Homo sapiens: one gene and its partner. The protein of the gene in region 2 purifies or fractionates together with the protein of the main gene of each other region. This does not show direct contact. Each region holds a gene or a part of one and is shown on either strand. Other genes may lie near its edges.

Region 1 (3,817 bases), on a different chromosome or scaffold from region 2:
TAATGAGCTTCCTCCATCCTTCCAGGTACTATTTTGATGAGGATTCCTAGGACGTGTGTGTATCTTAAACTAATATGCAGACAGAAGCACTATTCACAAGGTGCATGAGTAGGAATCAGTTAAAAGGGGTGGGCTGGGGAGCAGAATGGCTGTATTCCTGGCTCATGGAGCACTACCATTGTAGTTTATGTCCTGTTCTGAGTGTGCCCCGGATGACACTGAAGTAATTCCATCATTATTCATAAGTTACTTACGCTGAAGAGTATTACACAGGTATGCCTTGCTCAGTAGGAGAGTTTACAATCAGAAATATCCTGCTTTACCGTGCCTGTGCTGCTGAGGGAGAGATGGCCCAGTTGCTGGGTAAGGGGTCCCATCATGGAGGCAGGCTGGAGAGAAATGGGATGGTCCATCCCTGGTGTCAGAACTGAACCCTAGAGGCAGCAACAAAGGACAGGGTTAGCTGCAGCATCCTGTGAGGCTGCCTAAAGCAGTGATCGGTGGCTGTCAGGACCACTGGAGACAGACATTTAAGAATCCTGGGAAATGGTAAGTGAGCAGCAACCCAACTATGCAACAAGAATAGGAACTCTGCCTGTCAGTGTGGAAGGACCCTCGTCTAAGAATAACAAGCTTAGGTCTTACTGCTGGGTTGCACAAGGGTCTGAGCCAGAACTCACACCCACATCTCCTGGCATCAAAGGCCTTTTTTTTTTTTTTGAGACGGAGTTTCACTCTTATTGCCCAGACTGGAGTGCAATGGCACGATCTCAGCTCACTGCAACCTCTGCCTCCCGAATTTAAGCAATTCTCCTGTATCAGCCTCCTGAGTAGCTGGGATTACAGGCACCCGCCACTACACCTGGCTAATTTTTGGCATTTTTAGTAGAGACAGGGTTTTGTCATGTTGGCCAGGCTGGTCTCGAACTCCTGACCTCAGGTGATTTGCCTGCCTTGGCCTCCCAAAGTGCTGGGATTACAGGCGTGAGCCACAGTGCCCAGCCAGTTTTTTCTTTACATCAAATTGCCTCTTTGGCTTCTGCCCACTTCTGAATACTCACTGAAGGCTGCATGAGGTATGAATGGTGGTGCATCCAGGATGGGTTAGGTACTTGTAGAGGAGATGTCTGAGTCACTCTCTAAAACAAGCAAAAACAAAAATGTTAATTGCCTGGAAACTATTATTCAGCCCACAGATCTAATAATGTTCAACAAAGCTCAGAAAAGTTTGAATGCCCCACTCAAAATAGAAACATTAAGAAAAACTGTTTTTAAAATATTAGCAATTCTTAAAACTCAATAAATAATCCAGTTTAAAAAAGGGCAAAAAGGAGTTCAAAATTATAGTGAGCTATGATTCTGACACTGCACTCCAGCCTGGGCGACAGAGTGAGACCCTGTCACTAAAAAAATTAGTAAAAAAAAAAAAGGGTTTGGAAAGATATCTCTCTAAGAAGATATACAAATAGCCAATGAGTACATGAAAGAGGTTCAAATGCAAATCAAAACCACAATGGGATACCACTTCATACCTATTAGGATGGCTACAATTATTATTTCTATTTTTTGAGACAGAGTCTTGCTCTGTTGCCCAGGCTGGAGTGCAGTAGCGGGACTACAGGTGTGCACCACCACACCTGGCTACTTTTTTTTTTTGAGACAGGATCTTGCTCTGTCACCCAAGCTGGAGTGCAGTGGCAGGATCTCAGCTCACTGCAAGCTCCGCCTCCCGGGTTCACACCATTCTCCCACCTCAGCCTCCTGAGTAGCTGGGACTACAGGTGCCCGCCACCATGCCCGGCTAATTTTGCTTTTGTATTTTCAGTAGAGACAGGGTTTCACCGTGTTAGCCAGGATGGTCTCAATCTCCTGACCTCGTGATATGCCCGCCTCAGCCTCCCAAAGTGCTGGGATTACAGGCGTGAGCCACCGTGCCCGGCCCACACCTGGCTACTTTTTGTATTTTTTGTAGAGACGGGGTTTCGCCATGTTGCCCAGGCTAGTCTTGAACTCCTCAGCTCAAGTGATCCGCCCACCTCAGCCTCCCACAGTGCTGGGATTACAGGTATGAGCCACAGTGCAAGGCCAGCATGACTACAATTAAAAGGATAGAATAACAAGTGTTTTACACTGCCACTGGTGGGAATGTAAAATGGTGCAGCTACTCTGGAAAATGCTTTGGCAGTTCCTCAAAAAGTTAAATATAGAGTTACTATGTAGCCCAGCAATTCCACTCCTAGGTATATATCCAAGTGAAATGAAAACATATGTCCACACAAAAACTTGTATATCAATGTTTATAGCAGTATTATTCATAATGATCAAAAGGAAACAACTTAAATGATGACCAATTGATAACTGGATAAACAAAATGTGGTATAGCCATATAATGGAATATTATTCAGCTATAAAAAGAATGAAGTACTGATAAATGCTACAACATGGATACATCTTGAAAACATACTAAGTGAAAGAAGCCAGACGCAAAAAAATCATATTGTATGATTTTACTTTTGTGTAATCACACAATCATACAATTTTCTGAGCTTTGCCTATTATATCCAGAATAGGCAAATCCATAGACACAGAAGTATATAATGGGTTGCAAGGACATTTCAATTAAAATTGGATTTGAAATAATCCAATATTGGATTAAATAATCCAAAAAGTGAGATTATTTAATAATTTGGCGCTAGGCCAACTGGTTAACACTCTGAAAGAAAACAGACTCCTATCTTATGCCATACACAAAGATAAATTCCTGATGATTACACATTTAAATGTAAATGTAAAACATAAAATCTTAGAGACCAGATACACAGTATAGAGACAGAGAATACTTTTTTAAATTAAGACAAGAAATTTAGCCGGGCGCAGTGGCTCACGCCTGTAATCCCAACACTTTGGGAGGCCGAGGTGGGTGGATCACCTGAGGTTGGGAGTTTGAGACCAGCCTGACCAACACAGAGAAACCCCATCTCTACTAAACATACAAAATTACCCAGGCATGGTGGCATATGCCTGTAATCCCAGCTACTTGGGAGGCTGAGGCAGGAGAATCACTTGAACCCAGGAGGCAGAGGTTGCAGTGAGCTGAGATTGGTCCATTGTACTCCAGCCTGGGCAACAAGAGCGAAACTCGGTCACAAAAAAAAAAAAAAAAAAGACAAGAAGTTCAAAAGTTATTTATTTATTTATTTTTTGAGACAGAGTCTCACTCTGTCGCCGAGGCTGGAGTGCAGTGGCGCGATCTCGGCTTACTGCAAGCTTCACCTCTCAGGTTCACGCCATTCTCCTGCCTCAGCCTCCCCAGCAGCTGGGACTACAGGTGCCCACCACCATGCCCGGCTAATTTTTTGTATTTTTAGTAGAGACGGCGTTTCACTGTGTTAGTCTGGATGGTCTCGATCTCCTGACCTTGTGATCCGCCCTCCTCGGCCTCCCAAAGTGCTGGGATTATAGGCGTGAGCCACCGTGCCTGGCCTCAAAAGTTATTTATAAAAGAAAAAGACAAATTTAACTATATAGAAATTTTAAACTTTTTTTTTTTTTTTTTGAGACATGGTCTTGCTCTGTTGCACAGGATGAAGTACAGTGGCGCGATCACAGCTCACTGAAACCTCAATCTCCGGGCTCAAGCAATTCTCCCACCTCAGCCTCCTGAGTTACTGGGATTACAGGCACGCACCACCTCACCTGGCTAATTTTTGTATTTTTTGTAGGGACAGGGGTTTTGCCATGTTGCCCAGGCTGGTCTCGAACTCCTGAGCTCAAGTGATCTGCCTGCCTCTGCCTCCCAAACTGCTGGGATTTCAGG
Region 2 (3,817 bases):
CTCCTGAGCTGCTGGGATTACAGGTGTTAGCCACCATGCTCAGCCTTATTCAGCTTTAAAAAGAAAGAAATTCTGGCCAGGTGTGGTGGCTCACGCCTGTAATCCCAGCACTCTGGGAGGCCGAGGCAGGCAGATCACGAGGTCAGGAGATCGAAACCATCCTGGTCAACATGGTGAAACCCCGTCTCCACTAAAAAAATACAAAAATTAGCTGGGCGTGGCAGCACGCGCCTGTAGTCCCAGCTACTTGGGAGGCTGAAGCAGGAGAATCGCTTGAACCCGGGAGGCGGAGGTTGCAGTGAGCCGAGATCGCACCACTGCACTCCAGCCTGGCAACAGAGCGAGACTCTGTCTCAAAACAAATAAATAAATAATAAAAAGAAAAAAATTCTGACACATGATACAGTATGGATGAACCCTGAAGACATTATGCTAAGCAAAATAACAGAGTCACAAAAGGACAACTGCTGTTTGCTTCCTTTTTTTTTTTTTATTTTTTGAGATGGAGTTTCATTCATAACATGTTGCCCAAGCTGGAGGGTCACCGCAACCTCCGCCTCCTGGGTTCAAGCGATTCTCTTGCCTCAGCCTCCCAAGTAGCTGGGATTACAGGCGTGCACCACCATGCCCGGCTAATTTTGTATTTTCAGTAGAGACTGGGTTTCTCCATGTTGGTCAGGCTGGTCTCAAACTCCTGACCTCAGAAGATCCGCCCACCTCAGCCTCCCAAAGTGCTGGGATTACAGGCATGAGCCACCTCGCTTGGCTGTTTGCTTCCTCTTATGTGAAGTTCCTAGAGTAGTCAACTTCATAGGGGCAGAAAATTGAACACTGATTGCCAGGGGTTAGGGAGGGGGAATTGGGAATTAGTATTTAATGGGTATAGAGTTTCAGCTGGGAAAGATAAAAGTTCAGAGATGAATGGTAGTGCTGGTTGCATAACAATGTGAATATACTTAATGCCACTCAACTATATATCAAAATGGTTAAGGTGCGTGCCTATAGTCCCAGCTACTTGGGAGGCTGAGGTAGGAGAATCACTTGAACCCAGGAGGCGGAGGTTGCAGTGAGCCGAGATCGTGCCACTGCACTGCACTCCAGCCTGGGGACAGAACGAGAATCTCCTAAAAAAAAACAAAACAAACAAACAAACAAAAAAAACACCTATTATTATATGTATTTTACCACAATTAAAAAAAATTTTTTTTCCCAAGTTTGTTTGTAGGATTTGGTTTTAACGAGCAGCCTCTCAATTTATTAAAAGAGAAGGAGACGCTGAGTTATCAAGTGGTCCAGATAACATTTTCACTATTTAGCACCTGTCCTCCCCAGATTACAAACAGAAGTTTGCTAGGTAAGTGGAGAATCAGAGCCAGAGCCAGAGAAGAACCTGATTAGTGGATTTTTGTTTTTTGAGACAGGGTCTTGCTCTGTCACCCAGGCTGGAGCACAGTGGCATGATCACAGCTCATGTTGCCTTGATCTGCCAGGCTCCAGTGATCCTCCTGCCTCACCCTTCCAAGGTGCTGGGATTACAAGAGTAAGCCACCATGCTTAGCCAACTTTTTCGGTTTTTGTTTTGAGACAATGTCTTGCTCTGTTGCCCAGGCTGGAGTGTAGTGGTGAGACCACAGCTCACTGCAGCCTCATCTCCCGGGCTCAAACAATCCTTTCGCCTCAGCCTCCCAAGTAGCTGGGACTACAGGTGTGTGCCCCTACGCCTGGCTAAATTTTTTAATTTTTAGTAGAGATGAGGTCTTGCTATGTTGCCTAGGCTGGTATTGAACTGCTGAGCTCAAGCGATCCTCCCACCTCAGCCTCCCAAAATGTTGGGGTTACAGGACCTTAATAGCTGGGTTCCTACAGCTCTGATGGCCAGATGCCCTCTCCATTGTAGGGACAACAGCAGAAGGGAGTTTGAAAAAGGTGTTGGAATGAATTAGTGAAAAGGGAAAAGCATTCTAAACTAAATTACAAAGGTCCTACTGGCGCCAACTATGCTCCGTCAGGTGGAATGATCATTTGCACTTGCTTTAGGTGCCCATAAGTGCCCACGCTGCTCAAATCACCACCCTTTTGTCCATACTCCTGGAAAGTACTGAATTCCATTCTTCTTAAGGTTTAAGAGGCGCCTACTCTAGGTACAGAAGGAGCCTTGCAGGTGAAAATGAAGGTTAGTAAGTACCTCAACGTCCCGCTTCAGTTTCTCCAGGAAGTTCTTTTTACTCTCCTCTCCCACATGCAGCTTCTGCCCTTCATTGAGGAAGTCATTGTCTTTGAATGTTGGCAAGTCCTTGGCCTAGGAGAGCAACAGCAGTTAGGCTGGGTAAGCCTGATTAATTCACCCCAGGGACACCCAACTGTTCTGCCGGGAGCAACTATACAGAAAGGGGAAGGAGGGGTTGTCAGTGTACCGACCCTCAACCTGCTAAATCAGCAGTGCAGGAGCCTCTAGTCCCAGGCTTTGGGTGGGCAGGGAGGGCAAACACATGAAAGATGAGGAATGACTAAAGGATTCTTTCCTGTTGAGCCTGGACCAGCTCAGGGCTCAGGCAGCCACTGACTGACTCAGGCTGGACTATGAGATAGAAATGTCTGCCATCCCAGCAGGACTATGAAGAACGTAGTGAGGGCAGAGGTAAAAGACCAGAGACCAAGGTCTAGGCCTAGCACAAGGACAGACAGGTGATTCATGACACACGGCATTTCATGTTGACAGACGGCATGTCTGGGAGCTGGGCTAGGGGCTGGGGTGGGCGAGGGACAGGATGGCCGACAGGAGTTGTTTCTGACTCCAAGCGACCCTTCCATTCCTGCTCAGCACCAGCATACCTTCTCCTTGTCGCTCGCTTCTCTGGCAACCGTAGAACCCTGAAAGGATAAGAGCCATCAGGGGAAGTCAAGCTGAGGCAAAGTCGACTGCATGAGCAAACATGGGAGAGCCAGCAGGTGAACTCAAGTAGGCTTGTTAGAGTCCTAGAGGGGCCAGGAGGCAGCACCTTGTTCATTTACTGTGTCAAGCCCACTTATAGAGCTCTATGTGCAAGACACTTTTTAGGTGCTCAGCAAACAGGACTGCACTGGAGAAGCTCAGTCCCTGCCCTTGAGCTACTTTCCTTCTAACAGGGGAGACAGATATTCAGCAGTGGTTCCACAAGTCATTAGTTCATTCACTACCACGGTGCTCAGTGGTACAGGGAGGAGCAGGACACTCTGAAAGCACATACCACACGGGCCCGGCCTGGGGAGGGACAGTGGCCAGGGCCTACCTACTTCCTGGAAGTAGTATTTGGGCTGAGCTCAGAAGGGTAAGGAGGAAGCAATTAGGTGGGGGAAGGAGTGGGTGGAGAGAGAGAAGGAGACTATTCCAGACAGCAGATGTGAAATCCTGGGAAGAGGAGCACAGGCACTGCAGGAACACAGAGGAAACCAGCCCAGTTGCAGCACAGAGGGAAGGGATGGCGGCATAAGGTGACAGAAGTCAGAAGCCAGGTTCAAGAACACGGAGCACCCTAGTTCACAGCCACAAGTGTGTCCTTCTCAGAGTCTAGAGATGCACTTGTGCTGGCAGTCCATGGGGGCCTGATGGATGCTAAAGTGCATGCGTCAGCACGGCCTCCCTCACTGTGCACATTCCACAGACAGGAACATCAACTGCTGCATAAATATGGCACATTTAGGGCTTAAATAATCTCCTGTTACTGTCACCTGGACTTCAAACTGCCTTTGGTCCACAAGAATCAGGCATATCCACTCCAGAGTTCCCTGTCCATGCCAACACATAGGCTCCAGCTTCCCAATTACATGGAAGTTGGAG

The links.
Region 1: the proteins of PIP4K2B (region 2) and RBMS2 purify together in Homo sapiens (co-immunoprecipitation; one large-scale study listed by IntAct). This does not show direct contact.

The regions. Positions count from the first base shown.
Region 1 is NC_000012.12:56,584,171-56,587,987, reverse strand, and holds part of RBMS2 (RNA-binding motif, single-stranded-interacting protein 2), read right to left. Parts: intron 1,140-3,817; coding exon 1,062-1,139; intron 435-1,061; coding exon 324-434; intron 1-323.
Region 2 is NC_000017.11:38,775,502-38,779,318, forward strand, and holds part of PIP4K2B (phosphatidylinositol 5-phosphate 4-kinase type-2 beta), read right to left. Parts: intron 2,872-3,817; coding exon 2,833-2,871; intron 2,300-2,832; coding exon 2,186-2,299; intron 1-2,185. UniProt on the Homo sapiens protein: Participates in the biosynthesis of phosphatidylinositol 4,5-bisphosphate. Preferentially utilizes GTP, rather than ATP, for PI(5)P phosphorylation and its activity reflects changes in direct proportion to the physiological GTP concentration.